7 linked regions of the Homo sapiens genome follow. The protein of the gene in region 7 purifies or fractionates together with the protein of the main gene of each other region. This does not show direct contact. Each region holds a gene or a part of one and is shown on either strand. Other genes may lie near its edges. The genes, in order: TRPV3, PRP4K, SLC25A12, OTUD6B, TNPO1, DERL1 and AKAP5.

Region 1 (3,500 bases), on a different chromosome or scaffold from region 7:
GGTGGAGACCTGCCTCTGCGCCTGGCGCCATGGCCCCTGGGCCCCGTCTTTATCTGTGGAATGCGCACAAAGCTTGCTGTTCCGCCCATCTCACTGGGGGTTGTGAATACCAGGGACAAAGGGTGTGAAGGTTCTTCGCAGGCTGCAGCAAGCTGCACAATCAGCTTGAAATGCCTCACGCCAGCTGGGGACCCGGTTCGGTGAAAAATCCAGGCACTGATGATTTTTTAGAAACAGTTTCCATTTGCTCTGGACTTGAGAAGAAGCCAGAAGTGTTCTCAGCGTCCCCAGCCCACCCTAAGCCAAGACTCCTCCAGCTGTGGCTCACCACTCTGGCCAGGCAGGTGGTGACGAGAGACACCACGCCCTACAGGGAGGCCCGTGGGACTTCGGTAGGCCAGTGATCCTCAAACTCTGCTGCATGTTAGGGCTGCTGGGAAACTTAGAAATTCCCACAGCATGGCCAGGTGCAGTAGCTCACGCCTGTAATCCCAGCACTTTGGGAGGCCGAGGCGGGTGGATCATTTGAGGTCAGGAGTTCGAGACCAGCCTGGCCAACATGGTGGAATCCTGTCTCTACTAAAAATACAAAAATTAGCTGGGTGTGGTGGCAGGCGCCTGTAACCCCAGCTACTCAGGAGGCTGAGGCAGGAGAGTCGCTTGAACCTGGGAGGTGGAGGTTGCCGTGAGCCATGATTGCGCCACTGCACTCCAGCCTGGGCAATGAAGTGAGACTCTAGTCTCAAAAAAAACAAAACAAAACAAACAAACAAAAAAACCAAAAATTCCCACAGCATCAACTGATGAAATCGAAATATCCAGGGTGGGACCCAGGAGTCTGTATTTGTGAAGCTTCCTGGTTGGCTCCAAAGTGCAGGCTGGACACAGAGCTGCTGTCTCTGGCTTCCTACTTCCAAAAAGCTGAGCCCTGGGTTACCCCAGGATGAGACATGGACTTCCTAGGACACCAACTCAAGACCCAAGAGGAAGGGACTGTTGGGAAGGACAGTGTCAGAGACCTGGCCTCACAAGACCCACTGGGTTCCCATCCCATCTGTCATGAGAGCCCAGGCAGAGAGCTTCTAGGGATAAGGCCAGGTCTCTCCGCCCCGCACCCCAGCCTATAAAAGCCCCAGGACGGTGGCCAAGCTGGGCAGCATCCAGAAAAGTTTTCTGGAGGACACGGAACAGAGGAGGGAAGCGGGAGACAGGTGCCTCCCCCGGGCCGGCCACAGCGGGCACACTGTCCCCTAGAAAACAAGGGGGTCCTGGGACCATGCTCCATGCAGGAAGCCTCCTCCCTGGGCTGGGGTGGCAGGGACAGCACCCGCCACAGTGGCACACAGGGAAGACGGCCTTGGAGAAGGCTCCTTCTGCAACCACAAGCTGACTCTTCAAAGCCCCAGCAAGCTGTGACCCTGAGGGTAGGCAGGAGCTGCGGGGAGGCAGACACACAATTCCTCCTCTGTTGAAGCCGTTCTCCATCTCCTCCTCCCCCACGGGAGAATCAAAAGGCCCCTTGTGGGTCCCAGCCCTGACCACTTGGGACAGGACCAAGGCCCTCGGGGCAGCTGACCAGGGAGGCGGGTACCCTGAGGCTGGCACAGCTGCGATTACTCAACAGTCACCACCCCCCAGTGTCCTCTGATGGCGTCCCAGGAGCCACAGCCTCCTCGCAGAGCGTAGAGACAGTGAGGCTGAGGAACACGCTTGGACCCCAGAATCAGTCCCCTGAGAAGAACATCTCAGACCAAGCCATGACACCGGCCCCTGAAAGAGATCTGAGCCCAGCCCTGCTCAAGTCTTCACCAAGGCTCCCAGCCAAGCCTCGATTTCTCAGCCACATCACACAAGGCAAGAAGGGCCCAAAGCGGCCACACTCTTGGCTGGGGACCTGGCACAGAGTTCCAACCGCACAAACAGGCTGGGGTCTCCCCATAATTGGGAAATGGCAGCATATTAGCGCTGCGCCCGCAGCAGCCATTCTGGAACTCCCGTCCTCGTGAGAGGCAGAAGGCCCCAAGGGCCACCCACTGCTGGGGCTATTGTGTCACCTCAGCCTCAGGCTCCCCCAGCCTAGCCCTCCCAGGACAAGAGATGGAAACGCGGCGTATTAGGGACTGAAGTCTAGAGAGTGGGCTGCATCGCACCAGCTCCGCGTGGCCCCTCAGAACAAACCTGCCTCCGGCCGCCACGCCACTGCAGTTCTGGACCCAAGGCTGGGACCTTCTCAAGGCTGAGGCTGTGGTTTGTGAATCCCCAGTAAGGCCCCCGGGGCTGAGAGGGTGGCAGCTGTACCTCCTGACCTCCCGACCTCCTGCCTCCCCACGCCCCATGGCCCCACCTCCGCCTTGCCCATCTTGGCGGCCAGCTGCAGCGGCGTGAGGCCATCGTTGTTGCGAGTGGTCTCCAGCTCCCAGTTGCCACTCCGCAGTAGGATCATGTCGTACATGCGCTTCACAAAGTCATTCTGCGTCTTGAAGTCCTCGGCCACGGTCACCAGGGCGTGAAGGATGTTGTTGCCTCGTGAGTCCCGCGAGGTGATGTCCGTCTGCTCGTGCTCCATCAGCAGCTGCACAATCTCGGGCTGGTTGGTGCATGCTGCCAGGGCCAGGGGCGTCTCACCTGGGGGATGAGCGCACTGAAGCTTGGTTCTCTCATGGGCCGGAAGCAGCGTCCCCCAAGCCCCAGGACTGGGGCCCATATCCTATCTCAGCAGGATGGGCACCTCAGGTTCCCTAGCCCTCTCCCCATCTTCCGCTTCTACGGGGAAGAGTGAAGCTAGATCACTGCGGTAGCCTCCTAACTGGCCTCCCTGCCTCCACCCTGGCCCTTTAATACTCTGCTCAGCACAGCAGCCAGACCAACCTGTTAGTGCCTCCCCCAGAATGAAAGCACAGGTTCCAATGACAGCCCACAAAGCCCTGCATACTCTGACCTCCTCTCTCCATCACTCACTCCCTCCTGCTACAACGGCCTTTTTCCACCTCCTCCAACACGCCGCCTGGGGGCCTTCGCTCGGCTGTCCCCTCTGCCTGTAGATAGCCCAGTCACTTTCTCCCTCACCTCCTTCAAGTCCTTGCTCAAATGTCACCTTTCAGTGAGCCACCCTAACCACTCTATTTAAAATTAAAATCCACCCTCCTCTTGTCCCAGACAGAACTCTTGGTTCCTTGTCCTCTGCTTTACTTTTTTTTTTTTTTTTGAGATGGAGTCCTACTCTGTCGCCAGGCTGGAGTGCAGTGGTGCGATCTCGCCTCACTGCAACCTCTGCCTCCCGGGTTCAAGCTATTCTCCTGCCTCAGCCTCCTGAGTAGCTGGGACTACAGGCGCCCGCCACCACGCCCGGCTAATTTTTGTATTTTTAGTAGTGATGGGGTTTCCCCATGTTGGCCAGGATGGTCTTGAACTCCTGACCTCGTGATCCACCTGCCTTGGCCTCCCAAAGTGCTGGGATTACAGATGTGAGTCACTGCACTCGGTCTACTTTGTATTTTTTA
Region 2 (3,092 bases), on a different chromosome or scaffold from region 7:
GAAGACTATCCAGAGCCAGTGCCATTTGACCATTTCTCAGCCCAGAATCAAGCATACTAGCTTCTACCTGCCACTCTGCGGTGGTTAGCTCCAATGGGGTGGGTGGGTGCATTCTACAAGGCCATTCTGCCTGCCTTATCTGCTTTGCATGCACTAAGATTCACAAACTACACTGTGAATCTATTTTACTCACTGTTTTGAAAAGCCAAAAACAGTTCCTTAAAAGAAGAAAATAAAGAGTGGGTATACTGAGGATAAGAGCCCAAGATTTGTCAAGCTATCATGTGAGCAATGAACCAATTTATTTTTATCATTATAAAAACAGGAGTTGGCTCATTACTTATCTGTTTCCTTTACTAGGAAAACCAAAGCAGAAATGTATGTAACAGGAACACGAATATAATACACTCTTTGGTGTTGTGCACCTAATGCTTTGAAAATGTTTTGATGTTTGTGAGGAAAATCTGAACTCAACCAAAGAAAAAAACCAGGAGACAATATGATAATAAGAGGCATATTTTATTCAGTTTCCCAGTAAGTCAATTAGAAACATGCACTGCTAAAATGCAAGTTACAATTCAAATGGTACCATAAATAATTAGAGTACACACTGAGCATTTTCAGAAATCAGCTTCCATATCTTGATCACTAAATGGAAAGGTTCTTCAGAACAGTCCCTTACCCTATATACAGAAGGAGAAGAAAAATTAAGGATGCCATAATGACATCTATCAGAATAACTGGAAAACATTTTAATTTAGCATACATTATTGACATGTAAAAAACACAAATGAATTTGTCGTGAACATTTCTATAAGGAAGACATTCCATTAGGAGGAGAATGATAAAATTCATGTTGAATATATGCTGGAACTAGGATACTATTAAGAAAGAAACACATTTATGAAGCCCAATTGGTAAAGATGTCATTATAACTAAATGAGGAAAATTACATATTTGAATATATGGCTTTCTTTCCTATCTTCAACATTCAAAAGGGCCATTTCTTAACTACTTCGCCTAAATTTTATCATGTTGATTCCTTTGTTTCATCTCAGAGATTTTATTTCTACCCCATATAGCTAGAGTTCTGCTTACAAATGATAAAATACAGGTAAAGCATAAGAGGAATGCAAATATGGAACAAAACTGAGAACATTACATTTTACTTACTCTACCACATACCATAAAACAGTACATAAATATTTCATTTTGAAAAAAAAGTCCTGAGTACTTATTTTTGTTAGGAATAAAGTGGTACTTAATAATGGCAAAACATTTCTATTATTTTAAAACAAAATTTTGAGACAGTAGAGTGAAATGAGATAGCTATCAGGGAATGAAGAAAACAGGATGTATTAATAACGATTTAAGGGTGAATATAAGATGCTCCCCCTGCTCAAAACCTCGAAATTCCAACCTCATTTCTGATGATCTTCAAGAATAAAGTCTATCCAGAGTGTAAAAAATGTCTATGCTTTCCAGATCTCAACTATTCTCCCAACCCTAGAAAAAACTGTAACATCTTTGAGAGCCGTACCTAACACTTCTATGAGCCCTCAAGTCTGACAATCACTTGATATCACTTTTGCCATAAAGTATAATAAAAGCAAAAAATTCACGGCAGATAGCATTTGAAAAGCATACAGCTACTCTAAAAGAGGAATGCACATTTATTCAGGAGCATTCACTAAATAAATTCAATCTAGTAGGTCTTGCAGAGTTCCAAATTGCACCTCAGCAAAATTACAGAGTGTAGGAAAATCATGTAACGTACATAAGACAGTTGATAGGGTTCCTTTCAAATAGGTAGTCTAGATATGCTAAATTGGGGAGTATAAAAAACCCAGAGTATCTTTTTCATTTCCCTTAAAAAAAATGGCTCTGAATATTTTGTCTACTTTAAGACTGGAACACTGGTTAATAACGAGGTTTCTACAGGGTAAGTTGGGGAACAGATACTAAAGGAGTTGAACAGTATTCTTAATATTCCAGTTTGTATTCTTTTGCATCTGCCTAAAGCTGAAGACTACTTTCAGATATATGCTATTCTGGTGGTTGCTGTTTTTCTAAGAATCCTTAACATCCAATTTTGACAACCATGTGTTATGTGGAATCTCAGCATCCAGCAGCCTTTTATATTACTAAAGTTGACCACTATTTTTATTTTAGGGGAGGAGAAACTGGGGGAGGGGAGAGGCAGGAAGTATGATAAAACAAGCACTTTACAGACGCACTCCACAACAGCACTAATTCTAAATACCAAACACCAATAAAACCCAAATCATAATGCTGAAAACTAAAAAATTAGACAAAAAATAAATGAAGGATTGTTTTTTAATAAATCTTTTATAGGACAGAAACCTTAGCTCATGTCTTCTGGTTGTCATCATCTTCCACTGAGCTGCACCTAAAACACAAAGAACAAGTAACAAGCAACTTTGTTTTTTAAAGAACAGGTAACAGTTTTGAAGGTATAAGATGAACTGTTTCTAGTGGAACTTACTTAAAAAATTACATAAAATGAAGCCATAAACATCACCAGAAGCATCAAATTGTCAACTACTTTGGGTGAAAATAACTACAAGAGACTTGAATATGCAGCATATTATCACCGAAATAAATAATGGTGGGAAAATCACTACCCATTTCATTAAGGTAGAATAGCTGCACCTGTGACGCCTTAATTAAAAGGCTTCACTCTACCTGAAGATGAAAATCACCTTGTATTTATTTTAGTAAGTCTAAACCGTGAAGAGACGGGGTGTAGGTTCAGAGGTGGCTTATTATATCATCTATCACCTTCCTGGCTGTAGTTCATTTCATGTCTTTAAATGGAGCAAAACCCACCAGAAGAATCAATGCTGCTATTCTGATTTTCCATTCTTGAATGCACCAAAATGTGCATGCTTGTTGTAATTAGGTGCCTGGGTGAATAAAAAAATCCCATTTACAATTTAAAAATATTATTTAAACCCCTAAAATCTGATTATTTTCCATATTCCTCAGGGAGACAAGCATTAATTTTACCCCCCAAACAGCAAAGATTACATATATTTCTGAAAAATTCTCTTCTACCATGTTAATAATAC
Region 3 (3,500 bases), on a different chromosome or scaffold from region 7:
TTTTTGTATTTTTAGTAAAGACAGGGTTTCACCATGTTGGCCAGCACAGCTGGTCAGAGCCACACTGAGCTCTGTAATGGTTCATTACTGGTTGTATAGAGAGCAAACATGCACCCCTTCCTTCCTTTGTCTTTTCGGAGTGTTGGTGCAGCCAAGGACACCTGGTTCTCTCCTCCTTTTCCAAATCAGCTCCTTCCTAACTCAAGAGTCAGGCTGAGGCCGAGCTTGGTGGCTCATTCCTGTAATCCCAGCACTTTGGGAGGCCAAGGCGGGCAGATCACGAGGTCAGGAGATCGAGACCATCCTGGCTAACACGGTGAAACCCCGTCTCTACTAAAAATACAAAAAATTAGCCGGGCGTGGTGGCGGGCTTCTGTAGTCCCAGCTACTGGGGAGGCTGAGGCAGGAGAATGGCATGAACCTGGGAGGCGGAGCTTGCAGTGAGCCGAGATTGTGCCACTGCACTCCAGCCTGGGCGACAGAGTGAGACTGTCTCAAAAAAAAAAGAGAGTCAGGCTGTAAATGTGAGGTCTCAAACTCCTGACCTCAGGTGATCCTCCCATCTTGGCCTTCCAAAGTGCTGGGATTACAAGCGTGAACCACCACACTTGGCCCAGTCTCCTACTTTTAAATGGGGGCAGCATTTGCCTTCCAGGCTTTTCCTTGTGCTTTCCAATCAACAATGAAAAACAGCCAGAGAAGAAGAGTCTAATTGTGGACAGGTGTTTGCAAGTGGTTGAACCAAGTAAATATTTCCATGGAACTGTCAGCACCGACTTCTTCCCCATAGACATTTGATGTCAGTTTTCAGAATGAGATTATTTTTTCTAATTTTTACCAGTCAAGCTTTGCTAGCAGGAACTGAGAACATTCAGAAGTCTGCCTCCAAAGGCAGGAAGTTTACCTAGTTTCATCTGAATAGGGTGCAAGGCCATGCCAAGGGGAAGTATTTGCATTATTCCCTAGCAGAACCTCGTACAAGGCTGCCAACTCCATCCGCCTAGTGAGGATACAGTGATATTCAGGCCAAATTGAATTTCTTCCCCCGGGGAAGATTATTTTGCTCCTTTGCTCTCTGTTTTGTTTTATAAGTAAAAGGTGTGGTTGTGAAATCCATCTTTTGTGTCCTGCTGCTGATCAATCTCAACATGACCCCAGGGAGCTCGGGCACAGGGGCCTTTCCCTGACCAGCTCCCCTGTTGTTTCTTAACTGGCTGCCTGGCCACCTCTTGCTCCAGTTGTAATGACTTTTGTCATGTAAGCATGTCTGAAAGGAGTCACAGTCAACTCTCAAGGTAGCCCTTCAAACAAGCGAGTGATTATAAGTATTGATATTCACTTCCCACACTACGACAAGAATCAGCAAAAACAGTAGTTTGGTGTCAGATACATTTAGTGACTCACTAAGATGACATTATCATTTTTTTATACATAAAAATACTTGTATCTTATTTAAGAAAAAAAGGAGGTAAAATAATTGAAACTGAAAGGGAACGCTTGGGAATTGTCTTATTAATATTGCTACTTTTTTTTTCTCTCTCACAGTTATTTGGGATCATGCAATGTAGAGTGATTTTTTTTTTAATTCAGGAAAAAATAATAATAATTTTCCCCTGATCACACTGCAACAGCTAATAGGCTTCTATGCCCTTTTCCCATTAATGGCCAGACATCTATGTAAAGAGTTTTGAGTTCCGCTCAAGTGGTTGAAGTTGCAGGCTCTATAGTAGATGTTAGCAGTATTCCTATCTTTTATAAGGTACTCTAGATAAATTAAATGTGGTTTTCTCCTGAAAGGTGTCCCAGCTGCATCTCTGGTGACCCCTGCTGATGTCATCAAGACAAGACTGCAGGTGGCTGCCCGCGCTGGCCAGACGACATACAGTGGTGTCATCGACTGTTTCAGGAAGATTCTCCGGGAAGAAGGGCCCTCAGCATTTTGGAAAGGGACTGCAGGTAGGCAGGGGCTGGAGCCATACAGAATGGCTGGCTGGCTCTAGCGTCCTCCCCTGTGACTCAGTGGCTATCTTTACCACATTTGTCCTGGTTTCAAGTCTCCCCTGCCCCTGCTTCTCTTTTTCAGCTCGAGTGTTTCGATCCTCTCCCCAGTTTGGTGTTACCTTGGTCACTTATGAACTTCTCCAGCGGTGGTTTTACATTGATTTTGGAGGCCTGTAAGTCAGCTGCTCAACTCCTTTACAAAGAAATCACTAAGTCCAAAACAAATGTTTGTTCTGTCTACAAAAGCATTGTTGCAACTCTTAGAAAACTGATAAGACAGAACCTTTAAGACCAATGCATTTAAAACAGTGAGCTTAAGAAGCATTTGTGTTAAGCAAGTAAAACTTGACAGAGTGACATCGTACATAATATTAAGCAGCTATTTGGGGGATTTTAGGGAAGCAGCAAATTTTTTTAAAAAAGACAGGATATCCTCTGTTGCCCAGGCTGGAGTGCAGTGGCATGTTCTTGGCTCACCGTAGCCTCAACCTCCCGGGCTCAAGCGATCCTCCCACCTCAGCCTCCTGAGTAGCTGGGACCACAGAGGCATGCCACCACACCCAGCTAATTTTTGTACTTTTTTATAGAGATGGGATCTCACTGTGTTGCCCAGGCTGGTCTCGAACTCCACCAGCCTTGGCCTCCCAAAGTGCTGGGATTACAGACATGAGCTACCGTGCCTAGCCAGGAGGCAGCAGATTAAAATGCTGTGTAAATAATTGTCTTTTTTCACATAAGCAAATACTGAACTTCATGGCGTTCTCATTATGTGGATTTTATTATATGGCCCTTTCACAGAAGTAATGTAAATGTATACCAGTAACACTTTTGTGCATTTTCTTTCAAAGTCCCAAGCCCTTTTGCATCTCTGATATTTCATTATTCACCACAATTTATTATTAGTTAGGTGCAGATGTTCTTGAAGCTAATTTACTGGAAAAACCAATAGGTTTGAAGAGAGATTTTGCCCATGGATATAATCACTAGTGAGCTGTAGGCCAGAAATTGGGCTTCTAAAAGCTTACCACTTGAAGCTTGCACTGAGAAGAAGAATTACAAGTTGAATTTTCTGGGTGGGGAAGTTGTACCCAAAGCAAGCAATTATTAGCTTTTCAGCAGAAGACCAAGTACCATTCCTGAGTCCTCACATCAGAAACCTGTGAACTCCTCTGTGCCCAAAGGCCATATAGGGAATCAGCTGCTGAACCAAGTGGAGGGACCTATGCAAAAAAAGTGAGAACAGCAGTCTTACAGTTGCATTGTAGAAATGTGAGGCTTCAGGCTTTTCCATGCTTCTTTCATCTTCTGTAAAAGAACTAAAGCTATTTCTCTCTCTCTCTTTTTTTTTTTTTTTTTTTTTTAGACGGAGTCTTGCTCTGTCGCCCAGGCTGGAGTGCAGTGGTACGATCTCGGCTCACTGCAACCTCCACCTCCCAGGTTCAAGTGATTCTCCTGCCTCAGCCTCCTGAGAAGCTGGGACTAAGGGCGCCCACCACCGC
Region 4 (3,500 bases), on a different chromosome or scaffold from region 7:
CTGTGTACCTAGAACTGTGGATCACAGAGGCATAATATCTTAAAACACAAGATGGCACTATTACTTTATAAAAGACTAAAAAAGTTTCAGAGGGGAAAGGAAGAATAAGCACCTTAGATATCATCTAATCCAAAACCCCTCATTTTCCTCTTCTGAGGAAACAGCACGCAGAAAGATTTCCAAAGGCCATACAGCTGGTAAGAGCAGAGCAGGGACCAAGGACAACACAGAGAGCTCCTTCTATCCAGGCACCTGAATCAGAATAAAAGTTGGAGCAGATGGGAGCTGGAGTTAATGATGTCATGTACTATTTACTGAAAGAGTGGCACTTTATCTTATCTGCAAAACTGTTTAAGCCTCTAAAATACTAATTCTAATCATTTCATTTTTTTCCCTTCATGCTTTGCTTCATTAGAACAAAGCAATTGAGTTTCCTTTTCAGGGCACTAGGTAAGAAATCCACTGAATTCTTTTTCCAGCAATATATAGTTTCCCAAGAGCACTAGGCACTTTGGTTTCTACAGCTATAGTAGTGGAGATAGAATGGCACTAATAAGTTCTAATAAAAACGTATAAAAGATGAAAATAGCATGTAAATCATAAATATATTGTCAATAAAACTACAGTCATGTTGATATAGTAATATAACAAAGAAGATTCAAAGGGAATATTAAGAGCTGGACACCAGTCCTGGGTTTGTATCAAACTTTTAGTGTACAATTGAGATAACTTGGGTCTCTGCTTTCTCATTGGAAAATACAGAAATTGAATTCAATCTCATTCCAGCCCTCAAATTCCATATTTTTGAAACCCAGCTCTTCTAAGTTCTATTTTAGACTCTTTCTCTCATATCAAAAAGTTTGTAAGTTCTTTGAATAAAATACTGTTTTTCTAGACTAAAAATAAGAGATATGCTCTACAATATTCCACGATATTCTTAAAATAAATCTTGACAAAGTTTTATCACGTTTTTCTTCCAGAGTTGTATCCTTCCCAAAGATAAACATCATTAATTAAATGACTTTGCATTCCTTGGTGCTTCTAGCAAAAAGGAGGTTCCAAATAATCTAACACCCGATTGTGCATCCTGACTTCAGGTTCCATTTTCTTAAGCATTATAAACGTTTAATGTTTTCTGTTCTAAAATCCCATTAATATAACCCTGTAAAAACATTACTTGGGCATTTTTTCTACCAAGTGTTAAAGCAGCTGACTATAAAAGATACTAAATGGTTTGAGAGTATAACTGACAAAAGTATTAATTCCAGTTGTGCAGTATCTTAGGGAAAAAGTAACAAAATTTTTGAGAAAGGTAAGGGAGTTTTCGTTTTGTTTGTTTTGTTGTTAGAGGTCCAGCTGGGGAGGAACAAGTTTTGATAAAGATAGGAAGAACTTGTGCCCTTAGGTTTTCCAGAATTAAATAGGCTATTATAAGATGTTTCAATTACTAAGTAGACGTAATTCCAATGTTTTGTTATGCTACTGGCATGCAAAAATTCTGCCCTTCCTTTTTGATCTATAGAAGCTAGACAATTGTGAGATCATCACAAAAGAATGCATATCCTAAGCAGACAATCTCCAAGATTCCATGAGATCTAAATTTTATGAATCTACAAAATTCACAATTATATTTACTCAAAAATAAAATTCTACACAAGAATGAGAAATGTTGGACTATGTGCATTTCATCAGCTTGCAAACAAAAAAAGACATTGCTTTTAGGTTTAATTTTTTAAGAGGCATAGTATGCACTACTTAACACAGAAAAAGACATTGCTTTTAGGTTACATTTTTAAGAGGCATACTATACACTACTTAATATAGAAACAATACTATCATTTGTTGACCCATTAGTTCTCCAGGCCTTGTGTTAAAGGCTTTGGAAATAGTACAGTATTTAATATTCACAATGAATTAGCTTATGAAGTAGCTATAATTTGCCCCCGTTTTATAGATGTGAAACTGAGGCTTAAAGAAGAACCGTACCCAAAGTATAACAGTAAATGAAATTAAAACCTCATCTGTTTGACACTAAACTCCATGCTCTACTAAATTACATACTATGTCATAAGATGCAAAATGAATTTAAAAATATGCATTTAAACCATAGAAAACATCAAGTGTTAATAAAATAATACTCGCAACTAAAAAGACTGAATTTAATCATTTTTCTTTTTCAAATTCAAAGGGACTTACCTATCTAATCTCATTTCCATAATGCTGATATGAACTAGCTACTTCCAATAAATCAGTTTCCTTATAGCTCTTCAATAATGCAATATATCACCCCCACATTTGTTTTTGTGCATGCTGCTCCTCCTATTTGGAATATCCTATCTAAATAATATTTCTTTCAAATTCCAACCCATTATTAGCATAATGAACTTTCCCTTCTCTAAATTTTCATAATTAACCATTATATAGATACCTACATAATTCTCTAAGAATTTTGTATACCTACACATGTTAACTTCTAGGTTCAAATCCTTATTTCTCACCCAATGGTATAGTTCTTGGCTAGGGTTGTGCATCAGAATCCCCTGGGCCCACATTCTGAATTTTTAAGTCTGGGATAATATATTTGTAAAAAAAACTACTTTGCACTCCCACTCCCAGCTTCGCTCTCCTATGAGAGCTGCAACCTGAATACGTTATTTTATATTATCTTAGGATCATTTTCTTCTCCATAAAATGGGGATAAGAAATCCTACTTCACAGGATTATTGTCAGGACTAAATGAGATGTCATATAAGCAGCTTAGCATAGTATGTGACACACAGCAGGTGCTTAATAAATGTTAGTTCAAGTGCCTAGACAAGGAACTGCATCATTTTTTTTTCATTCTCTTCCTATAACAAGACCTAAGATAGTACCTAAGATAGTATTGAACACACAGCACTAACTTATATACTTGGTGACATGACTTTCATACCCGTCTCTTTTGTGCTTTTGATATCCGAGGTGGCTGATTCTCAAGCACCAAGTTTGAAATGTTAACAGCAACAGAATCTATCTGAAGGAAACAAAAAGCATTAACAAGTCAATGTACTTATTAAATTACTGAAAATCATAAATATATCTAATCCCACATTTCAAATTTGAGTAACAGCAATAGACACTGTATTAGATAATATGGTTTTGTCTCCTGTTTCTATTTTTATGGAAGAATTTGACAAGTTCCCAAGAAGTTTCTTTCAAAGATCATGCTCATCCCTGCATGCTTTCCTTCCTTCTTAGAATGCCTACTCCATTAATCTAAATGCAGTACTGTACTTCCTGTAAGCGCCAACTCATTTAGCACTCCACTCTTCTTTTCTCTGACTACTGCCAGTACATATAAGATAAAGGTCCTGTGCTGGCTCAGTTCATTATTACCTGCATAACCTCTACTGGCAGCAGAGGCCTTTTTCCATCTTAATTAGCCAGAACCTGATGAGTACTAATCCTTGACCCTAGTAGCAAGTTGAGCTTTTCCTACCCTACCCTTTTCCATCTACAAA
Region 5 (4,228 bases), on a different chromosome or scaffold from region 7:
ATGGTTCTATTCTCTAAAAGTGTTGAATGATACAGCCATTGCACTGAAGTTTGAGCTGTGTGCGTGTGAATTTATACTGTTTCAAAAATTTCAAATGCATGGTAGCATGTAGAAAGGTTTTTGTTACTATGTGTGTGTGTGTGTTTTGTTTTGTTTTGTTCTGTTTTTTAACGTTCTTTCACCTTTCCTCTACTTTGGCTTTGCAAATTTCAGTCTGTAGAGCCTGAAATTAAATTATTTTATAGTGCCTGATATTTTTAATATTATAAGTTGGATTCAAAGGGTATACAGCATTTTGTTTTCTAGTACCATTGCTTCACTGGGAGCTCAAAATTTGCCTCCCTGTTAGTCTTTAATAACTGAGTAGAGTAGCTTTTTTATTCTTAGATTATAGTGATATTCTGTAGTGCTTCAAATACTTAGAATTCTAATATGAGAGATAGTTTAATATTCTGGAATAGAGAGTATTTTAAATTGAAATGACCAAATTCGATTTAAAACAAACACATAACAATCTTCAGTAAAGTTATTTGAACCTGTGGTTGACAATTCTGTATTGACTAAAGGCAATATTGTCACCTGTCTCATTAAAAATTAGTTTCCAGTTAGGCAGATGAATAACACTATTAAAAATGCACCCAGTTTTGTAGTCACTTGACTTTTTTTTTTTATTTAAATGAAATTTAATTTGAAAATAGAAAATAAAATTAGGTAAATATGACTGGCAACCTGAATTTGAGTTGGGATTCTTTGTGTATTTTTCCCCCTTGAGGTTATTGTTTCTTCCTAATTTATATTTCAGATACATAGTGTAGAACAGGAATTTGCAGAAGCCATTTAAGTTATCTTTTGAGGTAAGCTCTGATTTAGCATTTATTCTGATAAAATCTAATACATCATGGGATATATATAAAGCAACTTAATTCTTGTGGTGTAGTCTTAATAGTTTTGAATGTTGACTGAATGTCTATAAAATTGTGAGTTTGTCTTTGTTACATTCCAGTGTTTCTGCCTCTTGGCATGCTTAAAGCACGGCTTACTTCATCTGCTCCTTACACACTAAAATGCTGTTAGTGTGCTCAACTACAGAAATAGCCGCTGCTAAGTGATGTAGATTTTCTACTTGAATATTTTTATGTTGTAGGAACCTCAGGAGGTCAGTGTTTACTGTTTTATATATGCCTTCTTTTTCCTGTTTGAGCTTCTCTCTTTGAAGGATTCTAACAGAACAAAGCTGCTGATCAACCTAAGTTGGAAACAGAAAGTGTAATTAATATAACTTAAATGCATGTTTGGCAGTTCCATGTTACAGTCCATTAGCGAGTGAACTTAGTGCCACAGGTATTCATTTATTCAGGAAAGAATTTTGCTTTTTGTATTGTCTAATCTCTTCAATGACTTCATACTGTGTAAAAAAAAATCACTTTTTAATATTTTTTGGTTGGTTATTTCCCAAATAATCAACATGTAAATAATCTTTTAAGAGCCAGTTCTGATGCTTTACATTATTGCTACTTGATTTTGTTATGCAAGTTAGATTTCAGAAGAATAGATTTTAAAACACTTAACCAAGCCATTACATCTTAAAAACAAAACAAGTAGCATACATTTTGTAATTAACATTGATAAACACTGTGATTTTTTTGGTTAAGACTTTTTCATTGATCTGAATTGCTTAAATTGCATATATTGTAAAATAGGATCAGATGTATATTTTAAACTAATTTCAATGGATTTTCCTCTTGAAATGCTTTGTCTACTCAGTTATAAAATATTCAGATACAAGTTTTATCTCAGGTGAATACTCTTGTATTGTTTTTGCTTTGGTGACATGCTTATAAAGGGTCATCCTAGTTACATTCTTTGTTTTTTAAGTGTATTTCATTGAGAATCTTTCCATTTAGTCTGATTTTTTTCCTAATATTCTAGCAGGCTGGGGTGGTATAAAGCCCTCCTGACAAGCCTTTTGCCTACAGGTTTACCTGAAAATGAGCTACATATGGTCGTCATTTTCTTCAAACTCTCAAAATAGGAAAGTGGAAATTTTTCTCCCCTATATAAAATTATTCTGCCTAGCAGAAATGCCAGAAATAAATTAATTGCATCTTAGTCTAAATTTAAGTCCTTTGCCATGAGGAAAAAGTGGTTTTTTGCTTCATATGGTAAATCTATATTATTCATATTGAATGTATTAACAGATAATGGTGCAAAAGCATTCTTCCCAGGGGAAGAGTGTATCATGCATAACTGCAATTTAAGTCCTTCCTTTGATAATACTTCAAAACATACACAGCTTTGCTTACTGAATTATTTTTGCAAATAATACAAGGAGGGGAAACTAACTTGCTACTAGTGTTGTTAATGAAGTATAGGCCTTGGAACATTTAAGAAAACTGGTCTTCAGATAGTTAAGGGCTTGGGATAATTTAAGTGAAAAGTGAGATCAGTAATGAGCTGTGTTGTTAACAATATTATCTGGTAATAATACCATGCAATATAGCGTTGTATACCAACTTAGTGCATTTTATACTGTATTAAATATGGAGATACTTCTAATGCCTCTCTAAAATTAAATTTTACATAAAAGTTAGTTTTATTCACCTTTAGGCTTTCCAAGTGAATTGTGACTAATTTTTTCAATCTTACATAGATCTTTCACCCATTAGCATTACTTACGTAGATAATTCTTTATGCCTAGTTATTATACATATTAATTTTTAAGGTATACATTTAAATTACACAATTGTTCATTGTGGTTTGTATCCCAGAATGTGTTGTGTTTTTTAAAAGATGCATAATAGCTGAATGTATGCATGACTTTGAAAGAAGTTAAAATGGTGATTTTTTTTCACCTCTTGTACATTTTAAAACCAGGCCAAATCTATTTGCCAAGCAGTGTATCACTAATAAGAAAAGCAGTTTTTCCTTTTATTGCAGTTTTTGTTTATCTGCCATAGAATTTCCTTATACTGTGGCTTGGTATTATTCAAGATTAGCTATTTCGCTGGTATTACATCTTTTTAAAAGCCTATTATAACATGGTTAGCCTATAAGGCAGTGTTGGTCCCCTTCTAATATTGGCCTCATAAAGGGGTTCCACTGTACTTTCCGCATATTACTGTGTTGTTGTTTTCCTTTGTGGATATATAAGCAAATTGAGCTTGGGTGATTTTTATGGAGACAATAATTAGACAATACTGTATAATTAGTTTTACTTAATAGATTATCATCTTGTGAGAAGAGATGTTTAAACGTGGTAAATCACTTCATATTACAAAACAGTTTTACACTTAATATGTTAACATTGGGTGCAATAATTTAGTAGCATTAGCTTTAGTTACAAATATAACTGGATCTTTCTGCTGACAACTTAGGTTGTATGAGTTATGCTTAAAAGCTTTAAATCTGATGTTTCCTGTACCTGCCACACTATGTTAGAATGTGTCCTTCAAACATATCCTCCTGCAACTTCTCAAACTGTACTAAATTGATATTTCTTGAAGTCTAACTCTGTGCTAACAGATCTCCATTTTAAATAGAATACGGTTTTAATTTTTGATAAGCTGCTGAATTTTAAAGAGAGTTTTTTGGGGCCACCAAATATTTTGGATCATGCAGAGAATATATATTGTACTGTAGTAATTTTGTATTTACATTTGTATGATGTGACATAATAGATGTGAATGTTAATCACTGCTTGACTATGTTAATAAAGTTGTTTAACTATAGATGTTGCACTCTGATTTTTAATGAAAGGAAATGAGTTTTCTTTTTCCCTCTTACCCCATTTTGGATCTAGATAAGCCTTATGTTTTTTGGGATTTTTTTCCTTGTTTTTAGTTTGAGGTTTTGTTTTGTTTTTTCCTTAGCTTACACATTAGTACACTTTTGTTGTTGAACATCATTTATTTCTTAAAACAAGTGTTTTCTTATTTGTATAGTATAGTAAAAACCTGTTTTTCCACATTTTAACTTAACTCCTTGATGTGTTTTAAACAGTTGATTATAGGTTCTGCTGTTTGAGGATAGGGGACATACTATTCTGTAAAAGGAATTAAAGGCGAAATTGTGAATATAAAAAGTTGATGTAAGGAGAGATTGCATGAGTGTGTATGAATGTATGTCCTATTAAGGCTTCCTCTTTATCCTTCAAACAGTTAAGATTTGTAATTTGGGGAATTAACATTTATAAGAGTAATTTTTTCTTCAGGTTGTAAGGCATTAATAT
Region 6 (2,816 bases), on a different chromosome or scaffold from region 7:
AGGCTGTCGAAGAACGGGCCAGTTAAATCACCATCTGGGTGTCACAGCCTGCCTGACAATCATGCCTAATCTCATATCAGGGATATGCAGTAATAGCTTGCATTTGAAAGCTTTAAAAAAACAAACAAACCAAACCCTTCCACATCTTGCTAATTTTAATGTTTTGCAGTTCTGTCATTCCTCTAAGGGATCAGTGAGGGCAGTAAAACTTGAGCAGGCCTCCTCTTTCTCCCCTTCCTTTTATAGGGTAGGGGTATGTTTTTCAAAGACTTTTCAAATTGTGAACTGTAATATACAGAGATATACCATATTGGTGGTTGTGGTGTGTGTGTTTTTCTTTAAGAGAATAAAAAGAAACTTGTTTCTCTTCTGAGCCTTGAATTGCCTTCAGGCTAAAAAAACAAATGACCAATCTGGTTTCTAATTATCAAAGGACATAATAACAGCAGGTTTGGCTTTCTGATCTAGGTTTATCAAGTAGGATGGCAGATGCATCAATTAAAAAAAGCTTGGTGCTTTTGGGGGGCAGCCAACAGTTACTTTACTTTAAATGGCCATATTCTAACTTAACGGCTTGTAGCTACTTCTCAGTTGTGGGCAACACAGGATACAAGATTCTAGTGGCAAAATCAGCGAGCCCTGGAGCCTGCCTTCCACTTGAACTTTCTCTGTTGGGGGAAGTCCTTCTGCTAAATTTTGCATAAAGATCAGATGACAAAATACAGCTCCTTGCAAAAGCAGTAACTGCTTTGAAATTACCATAAATTTTTGTTGATTATGTATAATTGGGTATCTTTTTATACTAATTATTTGCATTTAATTTCACTATCTACTTAAGCAGTGGAGATGGCTTCCATATTGTCTTAGAGTGAGTAGCAAAGCAAGACAGCCCTAGCATTTTCTCCAGCAAGTGTTCTATTTTATTATGTACTTTGGAGGAATATTATTGTACCAGAAGGCATGGATGTTGAGAAACCAGCACTTGGAAAATACATTTTGATTTAATGGTAAAGCTGTATTTGTTTAAAATGGAGGAGGTGAGTATAGGAAGGTATAACTGCTTTTCTAAATGGAATGCTGATACATTTGTATCACCATTTTCCATTCCATTTAGAGTAGTTATATCTTCTCTGTACACACTAAATTTTGTGTTTAAAAGGGGTTTTTGGCCAGGCGTGGTTGCTCACGTCGGTAATCCCAGCATTTTGGGAGGCCGACGGGTGGATCACGAGGTCAGGAGATCGAGACCATCCTGGCTAACATGGTGAAACCCTGGCTCCACTAAAAATACAAAAATTAGCTGGACATGGTAGCGGGCGCCTGTTGTCCCAGCTACTCGGGAGGCTGAGGCAGGAGAATTGCTTGAACCCGGGAGGTGGAGGTTGCAGTGAGCTGAGATCATGCTACTGCACTCCAGCCTGGTGACAGAGTGAGACTCCGTCTCAAAAAAAAACAAAAAAACAAAAACCCGAGTTGTTGTCTGTTTTGGGAAGAGGCATGAAGGTATCGAGTATGATGTAAACAGACTCCAGTCACTGACTGCTGTCCCTTCCCAGGCAGGATGCATGTAGTATAACAAGTAGTGCAGGGCGCAGGCTCTGGAACCAGGCTGACTAGGTTGGAATCCTGTCACTTTCGAAGCGCTTCACTCAGTGTTGGCTCAATTTTCTTGTTTATAAAACAGGAGTAATAGTAATGCCTACCTCATGGGGTTATTGTGAAGATCAGATGAATTTATAAGCAGGCAGCACCTAGTGTAAGGCAATAATCACTGAGTAAATTCACATAGTAACTGCTCTAGTATAAGGTCAAGTATAAAGCCTGTCCTCTTCAGGGTTTCTGCTGTGGACAAGTCACCTGTCATGACTTACTCTTGCTGCCAAGAAGGGTTTAAGCGGAGGTATCAGATCATGCTCTCTGCCTTCAAGCAAAATTTTAAACATTAGGATCTGCTAAGTGGAATAGGTTTAAACACATTCTCAGTTTACTAATAAAAGAGTCAAAGATGGGAAATAGTTGGAAAATACTATTGAGAGTGTAGGCTTGGGTTTAAGTTCTCTTAGCTGTTCTGTGAACTCTTAGTTTATTAATTTTAAGGTGGGAAATCATCTAACCGTCTGGGGCCCCAGCTCTCCCACCATCTGTGAGAAGGGAAGAATGTACCTGGAAGGCAGATTCTGAATAAATTTTAAAACATACCCATACTTCCAACATAGAAAGCCTTCTTCCCCTGTCTCCTTTGATGGGCTCAGCTGAGAGCCTTTTAGAAATGCTGTGCAAGGCTCAAACATGCAGGCTGTGGATTTGGCCTTTGAAAGTGAATGTATTTTGTATCCTTTGATCCAGTTTGAGCCATATTTAGATATACCAAGATGCTATCAGTCATTCTTTGGTTGCTGGGCTTGTGGGTGTAATATTTTTGTTTCCATACTGTTCTGCATGGATTACTTTTATAAGCAGAGAAAAAAACGTTCAGAGTGTGAATTTAGCTGAAATCTGAATACATTTAAGAAACATGAAAAACGAATGCCGTCTGTGGTCAGGTCATGGGGCTGAGTACAGAAAAGACAAAGTTAAATAAGACGTCCCTCGCTGCCTTCAACATGACAAGTGCCATGGGAACAGCAGGAGAGGGAGGTGTTCTCGGAGGTCAGATAACTATGTGGAAGTGACTTTGTTCTCTTCTCTCCGTTTGTGTCCCCGTCTTTCTGCACCAGGTACCGCTGGCTGCCCAGTAGGAGAGGAGGAGTATCAGGATTTGGTGTGCCCCCTGCTAGCATGAGGCGAGCTGCTGATCAGAATGGCGGAGGCGGGAG
Region 7 (3,253 bases):
AGTCCTTCCTAGAGCCTGATTGTTATCATCGGGCTGTGGTTACGAAAAGATAGAGTGTTAACATTACCAAAATGAAATCAGTGTCTTAGTAAACACAGAACTTTTTAAACACCCACCTTTAGTATGTACCGTCTGAATAATTCTAGCATTTTCACATTGATTAGTCTTTTGAAAAATCATAAAGATGAACAATTCATAGGTTAATGCAGAAAATAATGAGTATATCAAGAGATGAAAACAGTGTGCTTTTGTCAAATTCACAAATGTCATCAAATTCAGAACTGCCCTTTTGGCTGAATTAGTTCAGCATTGTAGGTGTTTATATTTGTCTTGCTGAAGGACTGTTTTAGGAGTGTTGTTGTAAAATCTCTGTCCAATTCCCAATTAGCAGAGTAGAACTTTTGGTAGTGCGAACTCAGTAGTTCCATCAATGTGATCTTTACAGTTATAGGAAATGAACATAGTTTGCCCACAGTTCTTTTAAAAGATCTGAATAAACATGAGTCAATATAACATTTATTCTGTATTAATAATCAGTACATAAATTAATTCAACTTGAAACCTTTTTTCTACAGAGTACTATTTAATATTATCATCTGATCCATAGTAATTTAGTACTAATTTTAATGAGAAAAAATGAAACTTTTACTTTCATAATAGCTCATCCACTTAACATTTTTACAAAGAACTACTATAAATATGTAACACTATGCAGGCTTTTTTCTACACCTAGTCACAAATCAAAATAAGCATACTGTTTATTTAAAAACGGAACACTTTCAAACTGCTGCTGTATTCAGATCACCACCTTCCCCACACCAAATTAATTGCTCTCTCTGTGTACTCCCCTCTGTGCCACTCATGTTGCAGCATTATCCATGGCTCTTTGCCTTAACCCAACCCGGTTTCTGTTGTCACTGCTCCCTAGGTTGAGTTCTTGGATGGCAGGGAGCCTGTCTCCCTTATCAAATAGTGTTAGGTATGAGTTATGCCTAATACGTGTGTTGAATCAAATTGAATTTAATTAGGACACCTGAATTTTATGTAGCTTCCTTCTAATTTTTGTAACTAAGGAGCATTACAAATTTTCTTTTCAAAATGTACCATAAAATATACCATGGATTGAAATTTTGAATTATGTATAAGAGAGTTCATGTTACCCAATAAAACATCATAGGAATTTGAACCTAAAGAACTCTAAATCTTAAATGAGGATTTTTTTTTAAATGCACAAATGGCAGGCAGAAAAATCAAATCCTGCTATATTATCAGATGAAATTAGAAAGTAGACTACATATTTCAATAAAGTTGACATTAAAAGGATCTTTTCAAACAGTGGGATTCTAAAGCCTAACAATTATTTTTTAAATTCTGTTGTAAACCTCGAAAAACATTCTTAACTATAAAAAATAAGGTAACTTGAAGTTAGAAATTTATGGATGAAGTTAGAAATGTATGGATGAAGTTAATGCTGGATTGCATACAGAAGCCAAATTTGGTGCCTCCATGATCCATATCTTTAATGCCTTTAGCAAGCCTGTTCACATATACTGGTGAAATAACAATCTCTCAGAAGTAAATAAAAGAGATTCTAAGACTCCGCTGAGTAGTAGACCAAGTAAGATCATCACAAACTTCATGCTGTCAAATACATTACCTTGAAGGAAAATTATGCAGACAGCTTTTCTGAACAACTCCATTTATGCCACATGCTTATTATTCTTTGAGGTGGAGGAGGTGGCAGGGAACATAATTTCTGTTTGAAAGTTCTTTTGTTTTCTGCTACCTTTACTTAAATGTTACCGGGTACTATTTTTATATCCTATAAAGTGCTTTGAAAAAATGTTAAGTGAATAGTGCTACATAAAATAGAGGAGAATTTTCACATTCTCTGGGTTGTAAGAAGCAAAGTGAATAATACTTGAGTCTTAAAAGAGGAATGATAATATGCTGAAAAAGTTAACAAGTAGCTAATAATCCCCCTCCCCAACCCCCAGCTTTGCAAAATTCTGGGTTCAAAGAGAAACTGAATTTTGGCTAATAAATAAATAAACATTCATTAAAAGCAGAATTTATACCACAGCAAATGTAAAGAAAATTCATGTGGTGTTCCTAATAATTATTTTAATGTTGTTAAATGGACATGAATTGAAACAGAACTTATTTATATTCACTTAACGTTTGCATATAAGGTCAAATTGCTTAAATACTATTACAAGAAAAATATTTTATGACTCTGAAGCCATCTGATTTCTGCATATTTCTATAACAATAAAACAATTTGAATCACCTTAGAATTCACTGTAATAGGATTTGGCCATGTAGCACATATAATCAGATTGAGACCAGTTAATTTCGGAATTCCTTTTTCTAACTGAAATCCTACTTAATTCAACAGATATTCTCAATAGAAAAACAGAAACCTCTTAAGAATGAATGCAAGTAAAATATACATCTTATCATAAAAACAATCAGTACATTCTAACCAAAAATATATATCAAACCACAGTGAAAAAAGTAAAAACCTAGTATTAGATAAAATTTTACTTTCTTAACCAAAAAATTCATTGCACATATTTACCATTTATCTGTTTTTTTAAAAATCCCCCAAAATATTTCCAATAACTGCTAAGTACTATACTTTTTGCTTGTTCATGAGATTACTAAACATTTACAATGCAAGTGTATTGGCTTGGAGGCATCCTTGCAGTAAATGAGGGCAGGATTCTTCAATACACTGTAAAATGCACCAACCTTAGTCAGGTTTTTAAAATGGTTCACTTTTAAATATGATAGCTGGTAGCTGTCCAAGTCCATTAGCACCACATATAGTGAGTTAAAGAGTGTTTTCAGAGAAGATGACTCGTCTTTTTTGTTTTTAATGTTTAAAAGTTGTACAATTAAAAGAAATTGACTTCTTGGGTCATGTGTTTTGAATGACACTTTTCATCTTGCTCAGGATTTCCACCCTCCTCCCCGGATTATAAGCATGAAGGTAGGAAAATCTGGGGGAAATATTTTTGCACTTCAGCAAAGAATCTTGCTAATAATATCCATGATTTGGTTCAATTTCCAAGTCAGATTAGTTTCTTTTGTTAGAGGTCTCAATATGTATTTACAGAAAGAAATGAAGATGATTCTGTAGGACAAAGTAGCAAATACTTTCTATATGCAATCCATACACAATGCAAGAATTCACCCAGATCATTTAAAATCATCTAATGTGCATTATTTCCTCCAAGTGGAGCTCTTG

The links.
Region 1: the proteins of AKAP5 (region 7) and TRPV3 purify together in Homo sapiens (affinity purification with western blotting, with the first as the bait; one study listed by BioGRID). This does not show direct contact.
Region 2: the proteins of AKAP5 (region 7) and PRP4K purify together in Homo sapiens (affinity purification with mass spectrometry; one large-scale study listed by BioGRID and IntAct). This does not show direct contact.
Region 3: the proteins of AKAP5 (region 7) and SLC25A12 purify together in Homo sapiens (affinity purification with mass spectrometry; one large-scale study listed by BioGRID and IntAct). This does not show direct contact.
Region 4: the proteins of AKAP5 (region 7) and OTUD6B purify together in Homo sapiens (affinity purification with mass spectrometry; one large-scale study listed by BioGRID and IntAct). This does not show direct contact.
Region 5: the proteins of AKAP5 (region 7) and TNPO1 purify together in Homo sapiens (affinity purification with mass spectrometry; one large-scale study listed by BioGRID and IntAct). This does not show direct contact.
Region 6: the proteins of AKAP5 (region 7) and DERL1 purify together in Homo sapiens (affinity purification with mass spectrometry, with the first as the bait; one large-scale study listed by BioGRID). This does not show direct contact.

The regions. Positions count from the first base shown.
Region 1 is NC_000017.11:3,530,313-3,533,812, forward strand, and holds part of TRPV3 (transient receptor potential cation channel subfamily V member 3), read right to left. Parts: intron 2,626-3,500; coding exon 2,345-2,625; intron 1-2,344. UniProt on the Homo sapiens protein: Non-selective calcium permeant cation channel. It is activated by innocuous (warm) temperatures and shows an increased response at noxious temperatures greater than 39 degrees Celsius. Activation exhibits an outward rectification.
Region 2 is NC_000006.12:4,062,392-4,065,483, reverse strand, and holds the end of PRP4K (serine/threonine-protein kinase PRP4 homolog), read right to left. Parts: 3' UTR 501-3,092; downstream 1-500. UniProt on the Homo sapiens protein: Serine/threonine kinase involved in spliceosomal assembly as well as mitosis and signaling regulation. Connects chromatin mediated regulation of transcription and pre-mRNA splicing.
Region 3 is NC_000002.12:171,786,245-171,789,744, reverse strand, and holds part of SLC25A12 (electrogenic aspartate/glutamate antiporter SLC25A12, mitochondrial), read left to right. Parts: intron 1-1,797; coding exon 1,798-1,956; intron 1,957-2,083; coding exon 2,084-2,174; intron 2,175-3,500. UniProt on the Homo sapiens protein: Mitochondrial electrogenic aspartate/glutamate antiporter that favors efflux of aspartate and entry of glutamate and proton within the mitochondria as part of the malate-aspartate shuttle.
Region 4 is NC_000008.11:91,073,344-91,076,843, reverse strand, and holds part of OTUD6B (deubiquitinase OTUD6B), read right to left. Parts: intron 3,014-3,500; coding exon 2,933-3,013; intron 253-2,932; coding exon of another isoform or gene 113-252; exon of another isoform or gene 112-112; intron 1-111.
Region 5 is NC_000005.10:72,910,661-72,914,888, forward strand, and holds the end of TNPO1 (transportin-1), read left to right. Parts: 3' UTR 1-3,728; downstream 3,729-4,228. UniProt on the Homo sapiens protein: Functions in nuclear protein import as nuclear transport receptor. Serves as receptor for nuclear localization signals (NLS) in cargo substrates.
Region 6 is NC_000008.11:123,015,487-123,018,302, reverse strand, and holds part of DERL1 (derlin-1), read left to right. Parts: intron 1-2,717; coding exon 2,718-2,816. UniProt on the Homo sapiens protein: Functional component of endoplasmic reticulum-associated degradation (ERAD) for misfolded lumenal proteins. Forms homotetramers which encircle a large channel traversing the endoplasmic reticulum (ER) membrane.
Region 7 is NC_000014.9:64,471,751-64,475,003, reverse strand, and holds the end of AKAP5 (A-kinase anchor protein 5), read right to left. Parts: 3' UTR 501-3,253; downstream 1-500. UniProt on the Homo sapiens protein: Multivalent scaffold protein that anchors the cAMP-dependent protein kinase/PKA to cytoskeletal and/or organelle-associated proteins, targeting the signal carried by cAMP to specific intracellular effectors.